Linked DNA regions of Homo sapiens: region 1 is linked to region 2. Evidence: fine-mapped expression QTL. A gene starts in region 2. The other region holds a variant in brackets. All regions are shown on one strand. Distances are between the middles of the regions.

Region 1 (5,371 bases), 50 kb after region 2:
TGAGCTTTACTTTGCTGTGCTTTGCAGGTGATTCATATGGGCAGGCATGATTTCATCTGAATGTGGAGGACCGTCTCTCAGGAACTCTAATTCTTCCCAGTGGAACTGTGAGAAACTCAGTCATTTGTCTTTTGCTTTTTTTTCCTCTTTTTACTTCACTGTCAATTTTCGAACCAGTATAGACGTTGAGGAAGTCTCATTCTTCTCAGACTGGCAGTCACTGCATACTGTGTAGTTACATCTTGCTGGTCATCAAAAAAATGCAAATTCATACGGGTGAAGAGATAGCTTAGGACCACATTAGTAAGTGTCCACAAGTTAGTAAATGCATGTTTGGCGGATGGTGAGGCCTGGTCCTTTGAAAGGAATGGCAAGCTGCGTGGGCACCCTTCGTGTGCAGGAGTGCACGTTTAGGTCATACTAGTTTTCAAGAACAATTCCAAAGTGTGGCCTGGGACCCCCAACACTACATTGCAACCAGTGAGCTACAACTCTCCCATCATCCCTCCAAACAACAAAGAGTTGATGAAGCAGTGTATACTAAAGATGGAAAACTGCAATATGTTCCTTTTTTAAAGCTATTTTCCTTCTGAATAATTTTTTTTTCTTTGAGACAGAGTCTGGCTCTGTCGTCCAGGCTGGAGTGCAGTGGCGTGATCATGGTTCACTGCAGCCTCAACTTCCCGGGCTCAAGCCATCCTCTCACCTCAGACTCCCGAGTAGTTCGGACTCCAGGTGTGCGCCACCATGCCTGGCTCACTTTTTCTATTGTTTGTAGAGATGAGTCTCACTGTATTGCCCAGGCTAGCCTTGAACTCCTAGACTCAAGCTATCTTCCCCCTTTGGCCTCCCAAAGTGCTGGGATTACAGACATGAACCACTATGCTGGGCTGTAATTTTTTTTTTTAAGCAATTGGTTCTTCACTTTTACTTTTGTATACATATTTTTTTTGTTATGTCTTTCTACTGCTGGATACGCAGGTGTCTCTGAAAATGGAACATTCCAGCTTTTAAAAACTTCATCATATGCTTTTTCATATGGCAGAAACCGACCTGTATTTTGAAAAGATAAAAAGTTTTGAGGCTGGGCACAGTGGCTCACGCCTGTAATCCCAGCACTTTGGGAGGCCGAGGCGGGTGGATCACCTGAGGTCAGGAGTTCAAGGCCAGCCTCACCAATATGGAGAAACCCCATCTCTACTAAAAATACAAAAATTAGCCAGGCATGGTGGCTCATGCATGTAATCCCAGCTACTCGGGAGGCTGAGGCAGGAGAATTGCTTGAACCCAAGAGGCGGAGGTTGCAGTGAGCTGAGGTAGTGCCATTGCACTCTAGCCTGGGCAACAAGAGCGAAACTCCATTTCCAAAAAAAAAAAAAAAAAAAAAAAAAAAGGTTTCAACCAAATGGTAGGGGAGGGATTTTAACGTTCACTTTAGAATCTCCTGGTGCCATTTCCCACAGCATAATCAAGATGCCACAGTTGATCTCATGTCAGAGTGATAGTGTAGCAGGACGAGCTGCAGACAAAACCCCTCAGACACCGAATTAAAGAAGGAAGGGCTTTATTCGGCCGGGAGCATAGGCAAGACTCACGTCTCAAAAACTGAGCTCCCCAAGTGAGCAATTCCTGTCCCTCTTAAGGGCTTACAACTCTAAGGGGGTCCACGTGAGAGGGTCGTGATTGATTGAACAAGCAGGGGGTACGTGACTGAGGGCTGCATACACAGGTAAGAATGGAACAGAACAGGACAGGGATTTTCACAGTGCCTTTCCATACAACGTCTGTAATCTATAGATAACATAACTGATTAGGTCAGGGGTCGATCTTTAACTACCAGGCCCAGGGTGTGGCGCAGGGCTGTCTGCCTGTGGATTTCATTTCTGCCTTTTAGTTTTTACTTCTTCTTTCTTTGGAGGCAGAAATTGGGCATAAGACAATATGAGGGGTGGTCTCCTCCCTTATTCGATGAGCCAGTTCTGCCCTAGTGGAGTTCGTCAGTGCTGTTAGACAGGAGCAACAATCCCCAACTCTACATTCAGAGCCCTTTCAGCTATTTTTCTCAAGTCCAACACAGCACAGCACCGACCTGGTACGTGCGGTCGACAATTTTCAGGGCACCTACCCAGCTCATTTCCTCTTGGCAAGAGCCATGCTTTTAATGTGAGAATGAACCCATGACCTCAGCTAGGCAGTCAGCTTCTCTCACAGCTATGGGAAGTGGACAGAGAGATGCCACCTGGGCAGCCTCGCCAGCTGTTTGGGCAGATGCCTGTGAACTTGGGTACCTAAGATGGCCACAGGCCGCCATGGGCACAGGGAGGCCAGAAACTTCGCTTTGCCTCCCAAGGGCAGCAGGATCTGGACAGGGATGCTGTCTGCACCTTATGGACTGCAGGGTAGGGGGCTGCACTGGCTCCTTTCTGCAGGATGAACTACTCATCTGGTGCTGTCACTCCTCCACTCCCCCTGGCTTATCTCACGTGGAAGAGCTGCAGCCATTGCCATTTAGATGGATTTTGCAATGCGATTCCTGACCTTTGATTCTATCCCCAGTGCCCTCAGGATAAATTCTGAACTCGCTGACTTAGAAGGCCTTC[A/G]GTAACCTGACCTGAAGCCTCTTCCTGCTCCCTCATCTCTTGGTACTTTTCCTCACATTACCTCACAGCCAAATGGTTAGGCACCTCTGGTTAGGCATTCACTGTCCCTCAGCCAGGAATGGTCTGTCTTCACTCCTGTCCCCTTCACCTGGCTCACTCCTGTTTAGTCTCCAGGTTTTAATGTCAATGCTACTTCCTCAGAGAAGCCTTTCACAGCCCATAAGGATGGGTTAGCTGCTCCTCCCATGGGACCCCAAGGTAACTTGTCCAGCTCCATTTAGGGTAAAAACAGCTCTCAGGCTGGGAGATTTTAAAATTCCAATTAGAATCTGCCTGCAGCATACACTGAAATCCTTGCACCATTCTGTAAGAGTCATCCCAGAGATGAAGTGGCATGTCCAAGCAGCTAGGCAAGCCGCCCTTCCCACCACAGTCACCCACCAGCAGCAGGCACCCAGGCAACCCCGCAGTAAGACAGGAGCACTTACACTCCAAGAGTCTCTCACCACAAAGGCGGTTGTTCATTGTTTCAGCAACTATGCTGCAAACACCCTCAGACTCAAACTCCACAAATGCATAGCCTATGTGAGTTGCAGTCCGCAACAGAAAATCCACAAGAAATAGACCAATCATCAGACTCCTAAATGCCGTTCATTTAAATTGTGTACATTTTTAAGCAGGTAGTATCATTAGCCTAATTATCAAATGACACTATGTCATCTTGTAATTCCAGTTCCAAAATCATATAGCTCAGAGCCTGCTATGGGAAAAGAAAATATCTTAATTTGAACATGCAGCTGAAGTTCACATATTCCTGGAATTTTGGTTAAATGTAATCAATACGTGATGACTATGGCTGGGATTGATTCAACAGCAACACCCCATTGTGGAGAGGAAATATGATAGTGCCCGGTTCTTTACCCCTTATCCACTTATTTGATTTCACTGACAGCTGTATTATTCATAATACTCCGGAGATAGTATAATGCTCTGTGAAGGACGAAGATAATATTCTCATATTGTTTATATGTGAGAGTTGAGATGAAACAAAAACAAATCCTCAGTATCTCCCGGCAAATCCATGAAACACTGCTCATTCTCATGCTCCAGCATGACCGGACACCTTCCCAGCGGGAGGCACGGGGACTGGGCCAGCACTCTTTGAAATGCACATCTCGAATTCGCCACTCGGCACCCTAGCACGAAGTGGGTTCTGTCACCTATCTTTGTAACAAGTATGTGGGTTTTGGAGTTCAAAGGCTCAGGTTTGGATTCTCGACTCTGATAAGTAAGGGTAAGTAACACTTAAGCATCATGAGCCTCAGTTTTCCATTCTGTAAAATGGGGATGCTAACCACTCTCAGGGTTGCTGTGAAGATATGAGATTGTGCACAAGAGCTCAACACAATGTGTGTCATGGACTCCATAAATGTTACCAGTGATTGGTGGTAATAACCAGAAAGGTTTTCTTTTTTTTTTTTCTTTTTTTTTGAGACTGATTCTCTCTCTGTCGCCCAGGCTGGAGCGCAGTGGCGCGATCTTGGCTCACTGCAAGCTCTGCCTCCCAGGTTCACGCCATTCTCCTGCCTCAACCTCCCCAGTAGCTGGGACTACAGGCGCCCGCCACCACACTTGGCTAATTTTTCATATTTTTAGTAGAGATGGGGTTTCACTGTGTTAGCCAGGATGGTCTCCATCTCCTGACCTCGTGATCTGCCCGCCTCGGCCTCCCAAAGTGCTGGGATTACAGGCATGAGCCACCGTGCCTGGCCCAGAAAGGTTTTCTAACCTTGCATTAGACAACATAGCTTTGGCTATGGATCAAAATTGGTGATGTGACTGGAGATAAGGAACCACCTGAAAGCCGCGTGGCTTAACAGGGTGGGAGTCAGGAGGCTCACTGCTAGCGCCAGCTGTGTCACTCATCAGCAGGTTGGCCACGCCCACCACTGGGTCTCAGGTTGGTTGTCCACAACAGAAGCATTCTAGTAAAAATTATTTTTTAATTATTTATTTATTTATTTGTTTTGAGACGGCATCTTGCTCTGTTGCCCAGGCTGGAGTGCAGTGGCCCGGTCTCGGCTCACTGCAGCCTCCACCTCCCGGGTTCAAGCAATTCTCCTGCCTCAGCCTCCCGAGTAGCTGTGATTACAGACACCCGCCACCATGCCTGGCTAATTTTTTGTATTGCTAGTAGAAATGGGGTTTCACCATGTTGGCCAGGCTGGTCTTGAACTCCTGACTTTGTGATCCACCTGCCTCAGCCTCCCACAGTGTTGGGATTACAGGCGTGACCCACCATGCCTAGCCACTCATTCTGGTAAAAATTAAACTGCCTGTAGCTGGGTGTGGTGGTGAGTGACTGGGGTCCTAGCTACTGAGGAGGCTGAGGTGGGAGGATTGCTGAATCCAGGAGTTTGAGACTGCAGTGAGCTAGGATCGCACCATTGCACTGCAGCCTGGGCAACAGAGGGAGACCCTGTCTTTTAAAGACATATTAGGCCAGGTGCAGTGGCTCATGCCTGTAATCCCAGCACTTTGGGAGGCCGAGGTGGGTGGATCATGAGGTCAGGAGTTCAAGACCAGCCTGGCCAATATGGTGAAACCCCGTCTCTACTAAAAATACAAAAATTAGCCGGGCTTGGTGGCACACACCTGTAGTCCGAGCTACTCGGTAGACTGAGGTAGGAGAATCGCTTGAACCCGGGAAGCGGAGGTTGCAGTGAACCAAGATTGTGCCATTGCATTCCAGCCTGGTGACAAAGCGAGAC
Region 2 (5,371 bases):
CCCTATAACTAGATGTGATCGCTTCTTGCCACAAATTCCAATCATATTCAGTCCAGTTTTGTGACACTTATAGTAATCTGGCTTGTATTTGTGTACCTGTTTTATTCTTCAAATAGGTTATGGCCTCCTAAAGGCAGGATCAAAGTCTTACTGAGTACTTTGCAGCTATCATGCCTTATAATTAAGAGTTGCAAGGGCCGAGTGCAGTGGCTCAAGCCTGTAATCCCAGCACTTTGGGAGGCTGAGGCAGGCGGATCACGAGGTCAGGAGATCGAGACCATCCTGGCTAACACAGTGAAACCCTGTCTCTACTAAAAATACAAAAGATTAGCCGGGCGTGGTGGCGGGTGCCTGTAGTCACAGCTACTCCAGAGGCTGAGGCAGGAGAATGGCGTGAACCTGGGAGGCGGAGCTTGCAGTGAGCCAAGATTGCTCCACTGCACTCCTGCCTGGGCGACAGAGCCAGACTCCGTCTCAATAAATAAATAAATAAGAGTTGCTGAGTACTTATTAATCAAATTCTTTTCTTTTTTTACAGACAGGGTCTTGCTCTGTTGCCCAGGCTGGAGCACAGTGGCATGATAATGGCTCACTGAAGTCTTGACTTTCTGGGCTCAAGCAATCCTCCTGCCTCAGCCTCCTGAGTAGCTGGGACTATAGGCACACACCACCACACCCAGCTAATTTTTTTATTTTTATTTTTTGTAGTATCCAGGTCTTGCTATGTTGCCCAGGCTGGTCTTGAACTCCTGGGCTGAAGCAATCCTCCTGCTGTGGCCTCCAAAATTGTTGGGATTACAGGCGTGAGCCACCGCACCTGGTGTTATTAATCAAATTCTGTAAGTTGAGTAACTATAGCCTTCTTTGCGTCACTTACGTGATACTTCAATTATTCAAATGCAGTGTAGATTTTACAGAGTTGTAAAGGTATAAACTACTCATTAAAAATAAAATATTTAGCTGAGCCGGTGGCCTGCACCTGTAATGCCAGTTACTCAGGGGGAGGATCGCTTGAGCCCAGGAGTTCAAGGGCAGCCTGGGCAACATAGTGAGACCCAGTGTCTAAAAAATAAAATAAAATATTTTTATCTGGGCATGGTGGCATGTGCCCGTACTCCCAGCTCCTTGGGAGGCTGAGGTTGGAGATGGCTTGAGCCCAGAAGTTGGAAGGTGTAGTGCCCAGAAGTTGGAAGGTGTAGTGCCCAGTGATAGTGCCTGTGTATAGCCACTGCACTCCAGCCTGGGCAACACTGCCAGACCCCTCTCTGCTCTTTTTTTTTTTTTTTTTGACGGAGTCTCGCTCTGTCGCCCAGGCTGCAGTGCAGTGGCAAGATCTCGGCTCACTGCAAGCTCCACCTCCCGGGTTCACGCCATTCTCCTGCCTCAGCCTCCCGAGTAGCTGGGACTACAGGCGCCCACCACCACGCCAGGCTAATTTTTTTGTACTTTTAGTAGAGACGGGGTTTCACCGTGTTAGCCAGGATGGTCTCGATCTCCTGACCTCGTGATCCGCCTGCCTCGGCCTCCCAAAGTGCTGGGATTACAGGCGTGAGCCACCGCGCCCGGCCTGCTCTTTTTTGTTGTTGTTGTTGAGATGGAGTCTTGCTGTCACCCAGGCTGGAGTGCAATGGCGAGATCAGCTCACTGCAACCTCCACTTCCTGGGTTCAAACGATTCTCCTGCCTTAGCCTCCCGAGTAGCTGGGATTACAGGCGCGTGCCACCACGCCTGGCTAATTTTTTATATTTTTAGTAGAGATGGGGTTTCACCATGTTGGCCAGGCTGGTCTCGAACTCCTGAACTCAAGTAATCCGTCCACCTCGGCCTCTCAAAGTTCTGGGACTACAGGCCTGAACCTCCCTCTCTGCTCTTAAAAAATAAATGTTGGCCGGGCGCGGCAGCATTTTTTTTTTTTCAAGATTACAGCGTCAGTAATCCCAGCTACTCGGGAGGCTGAGGTAAGAGGATCGCTAGGACCCTGGGGGCGGAGGTTGCTGAGCCGAAATCGCGCCATTACACTCCAGCTTTGGTGACAGAGCGAGACTGTCTCAAAAAAAAAAAAAAAAAAAAAAAAAATGCTTAGTAACAATACGTTGTAAACGGAAAAAAATCTTATTTTTTACGTTTAGATGCATGAGTACCAACGGTATGAAATCTTCAAATAATGTAACTCAGCGAGCAGTTTAACTACTGACTAGGAAAAAGTTCCCTTCCTTGAAACCACATGGCACACCTCTGGCCTTTCCCGTGCTCCATCCCTCCCTGTGCGGCCACTTCTTTGTGCAGCCAGGCACTGGGCTCTGAGTCTAGGTTGGCGGACTCCTCTCCTCGCCTCGGCATGGAGGTGGCTTCTCTTCCCCAAGCCTTGTGCAACAGGACCCGTCCTTGTGAGGGACCAGATAAACGCCCCATGCTCAAAGTCGCTCACCCTCACCTAGTCCTCACTGCTTCCAATGGTGTGCGGAATAAAAGCGATGAGCCCGAGGAAAGCCATCGTAAACGACTGTGATTGTCTTTAAGAAAGCTTGTGGCAAGATAATAATGTGGTCATTTTACAACAGTAGGAACTACATGCAAAATCGTCTCACTTTTTTCCCCCCCTTTGAAAGTTGAGTTACAATAATTTAAGTTGAAACCATAAAGAACTGCTTCTAAAATGCAAAAAAGACCAAAGATTTCTTCAGTATACCTTCAGTAGTCATTTCGAAGGACGGTAATAATTTACAAGATCCCCGTAGACTTTTCTTTTTTTGGCCATGGTTGGAAGTGGGGTTGACCTTAAAACTTGGTGGTTTCAAGGAACGCTTAAGTGTGAATTAATATGATGTGAAGAAATAATAATAGCCTCATTCTCTTGCAGTCTAATCACAGCCTTTTCCCCAGCCCCAGGGGAGGGAGCCTTTAATAAGGGTCTGTGTAAACTGACGCCCCGGCGGCAGGAGTACGGAGAAGCACTGCTCTGACAAGTTAAGACGCAGGAAACAGCAACCCAAAGAGCAGCCCCCGAAACAAAGTTGCTCAGACAAACAAGCCGATGCAGACGAGCGCCATGGCCCTGCTGGCGCGGATCCTGAGAGCCGGGCTGCGGCCGGCGCCCGAGCGGGGTGGGCTCCTGGGCGGCGGGGCCCCGCGGCGGCCTCAACCCGCGGGCGCACGGCTCCCGGCGGGGGCGCGGGCCGAGGACAAAGGCGCCGGGCGGCCGGGGTCGCCGCCGGGAGGGGGCCGAGCCGAGGGTCCCCGGAGCCTCGCCGCCATGCCGGGGCCGAGGACCCTCGCCAACCTGGCGGAGTTCTTCTGCAGGGACGGCTTCAGCCGCATCCACGAGATCCAGGTAGCGCGCGCCGCCCCGGGAGGGAGCCAGCCCGGGCTGCTGCCCAGAAGGCTGACGGCGCGGGCGGGAGGGCGCCAGGGAGGGGCGCGGGGTTGGGGAGTCCCAGGGAGGGGCGGCGGGCAGGGATCCCCGGGCACTGGGCGCCGCGGTGGGTTGGGGGAGCTGGACTGGGGTTGTCCGGTTAAGGTTCGCAGGAAGGGGCGCTGGGGAGAGGACGCCGGAAAGGCGATCCGGGGTGGAGGAGGCAGGAACCGGGAGCGGGGCGGGGGCGTTGGGGAGGGGTCTTCGGGAAGCGGACCCCGGAGAGGGGCAGCAGGCAGAGGGAGCTGAGGAACGGGGCCAGAAAGGAACGGCTGGGAAGAGGCGGGGGAAATGGGTGTCTCGGGAGGTGGCGGCAGGGAGGGGTCCCCTGGAGGGGCCCCAGCCGGGACCCCTGGGGAGGAGGTAGCGGGGAGGGGAGTCAGGGATGGAGTTTCGGAGAGTGGTAGCCCGAGAGAGGCGGCGGGCAGGGTCTCCAGGGACTGGTCCCGGGGAGGGACCCAGGCAGGGATTGCCTGGTTGGGGAACCTGGGGAGGGGGCGCCGCGAAGGGAAACCAGGAATGGGACTGCGGGGAGGGCACCAGGGCTGAGGTCCCGGAGGAGGAGACTTGGGGAGGGGCAGCGGGCGCCTGGTGGACGCCGCCGGGGCCTGGGAGTGGAGAGCTGGCGGGACCCGCGGAGTTGGGGCTGAGGGGGGCTGCTGCCTGGGGCCGGCCCGAGGGGAGCGCTAGGTTCCCTAGCTCCTCTAGGCTCTGCGGAGCTCGGTGTCCTTAGGTGGCCGAGACCGTGTGTATTCATTTCTAGTCCTTTTTGTATTTTGTAATGGCGGGGGAAGAGGGGACGGAGGCTCGGAGGCTCGGGGTGCCGTAGGCTCTAAGCCGGAGTTGGGGGCGACACCTGGAGTTCGCGCCGGGACTGGAGGCAGGGACGTGGGAGGAACCCAGGGGTCCCAGCCACCCGCTAGGGCGTTGGGGCCGGCGAATTCCGCACGCTTCCCACTTGGAGCCTGAGTGCTGTCCTTCCCACGCCCACCTCCGTTGCGCCCTTCGTGGCAGGGGCACTGCACCCGAGCCGCGGCGGCGCCCTCCGATGCCTTCGCCCATCGTCCGCCTCCCCGGGTGCCCGGCCCAGCACGCACTGTTATTTCTGGTATGGGGGCTTTTGGTGTCTTCCGAGAACGCCCCCTTCTCCTCCCACCCAGGCCTGTCCTTCTGCCCAGAGTTCCGGTCTTTCGAGACCCTTCTCCATCGAAGCCTCTTCTAACTACCCACCTGGGCTTCAGTCATTCATTCGTTCCATCAGCCATTCAGTCAATGAACGTGAGGGAGAAGCCCCAACCCTCATTAATGGAAAAACGGGCGTGCGAGGAGCAATTTTAATTCGGCCGGGAATTAAAATTTAATTTAATTTTAATGCCAGGAAGTCCCAACCGTCCCTCCTCAAGTCCGCCACGCCAACCCTATACAGTTCCAAACCGCCACCCCCACCCCAATGCTTAGAGGGCTCAAAAATGATTTTCTTTGTAGGATCTGATAAGATATCAGGATGGCAACTTTCAAATACAGTAAAAAGTGTTTTGTTATTTGCTGTTGATGGGTTCAATACAGCCTGCTTTCTGAAGTGTAATTTAATTTTTCTTTTATCCGCCCCTACTGCCATCTGCTTTTATCCTCATACCTCACCCAGAGTTTGTTCCATGGGCACAGGTTTCTTTGAGACGGACCGTGTTAAAGCCTGTATCCAGTCAGGATGTGTGGCAGTTCAGATGGGTATTTTCCATTCACCCGCCCCTGCCGCCAGCCCTCACCCTGAGCTCAGCCCCTCCTGCCCACTGCTCAGACAGCTTCCTTCACCACACCCAGGGCCCTGGGGCACGGAGCAGAGAGTCACAACTGACTCACTTGCTGCCTTCTCACCAAGCGCACACAGGACCTGGAGAGTAAAAGAAATAAAGGAAAAAGTTCTTTCCCTTTACTCTCCAGGTGGCACTACCCCAACCC

Alleles and levels. Alleles are on the strand shown, and positions count from the first base shown. SD is a standard deviation of normalised expression in the study named.
For the expression in coronary artery of the gene that starts at base 3,021 in region 2, allele A in region 1 goes with a higher level than allele G (small effect, 0.37 SD a copy in GTEx).

What was found. PIP is the estimated chance that this variant, and not a neighbour inherited with it, causes the effect. A credible set is the group of variants that fine-mapping cannot tell apart.
Region 1: its variant is the best candidate, but not a certain one, in a credible set for the expression of CYP27C1 in coronary artery (GTEx, PIP 0.86).

Annotation. Positions count from the first base shown.
Region 1 is chr2:127,167,840-127,173,210 of GRCh38, reverse strand. It overlaps the pseudogene NIFKP9. Among named protein-coding and RNA genes, the nearest start is that of CYP27C1, 50 kb to the left of the region's middle. RefSeq lists an enhancer at 1,714-2,265. The variant A/G (reference allele first, on the strand shown) is at 2,601.
Region 2 is chr2:127,217,949-127,223,319 of GRCh38, reverse strand. CYP27C1 (cytochrome P450 family 27 subfamily C member 1) reads left to right here and starts at 3,021. Exons shown (of 9, transcript NM_001367502.1): 1 at 3,021-3,331. The coding sequence starts at 3,050.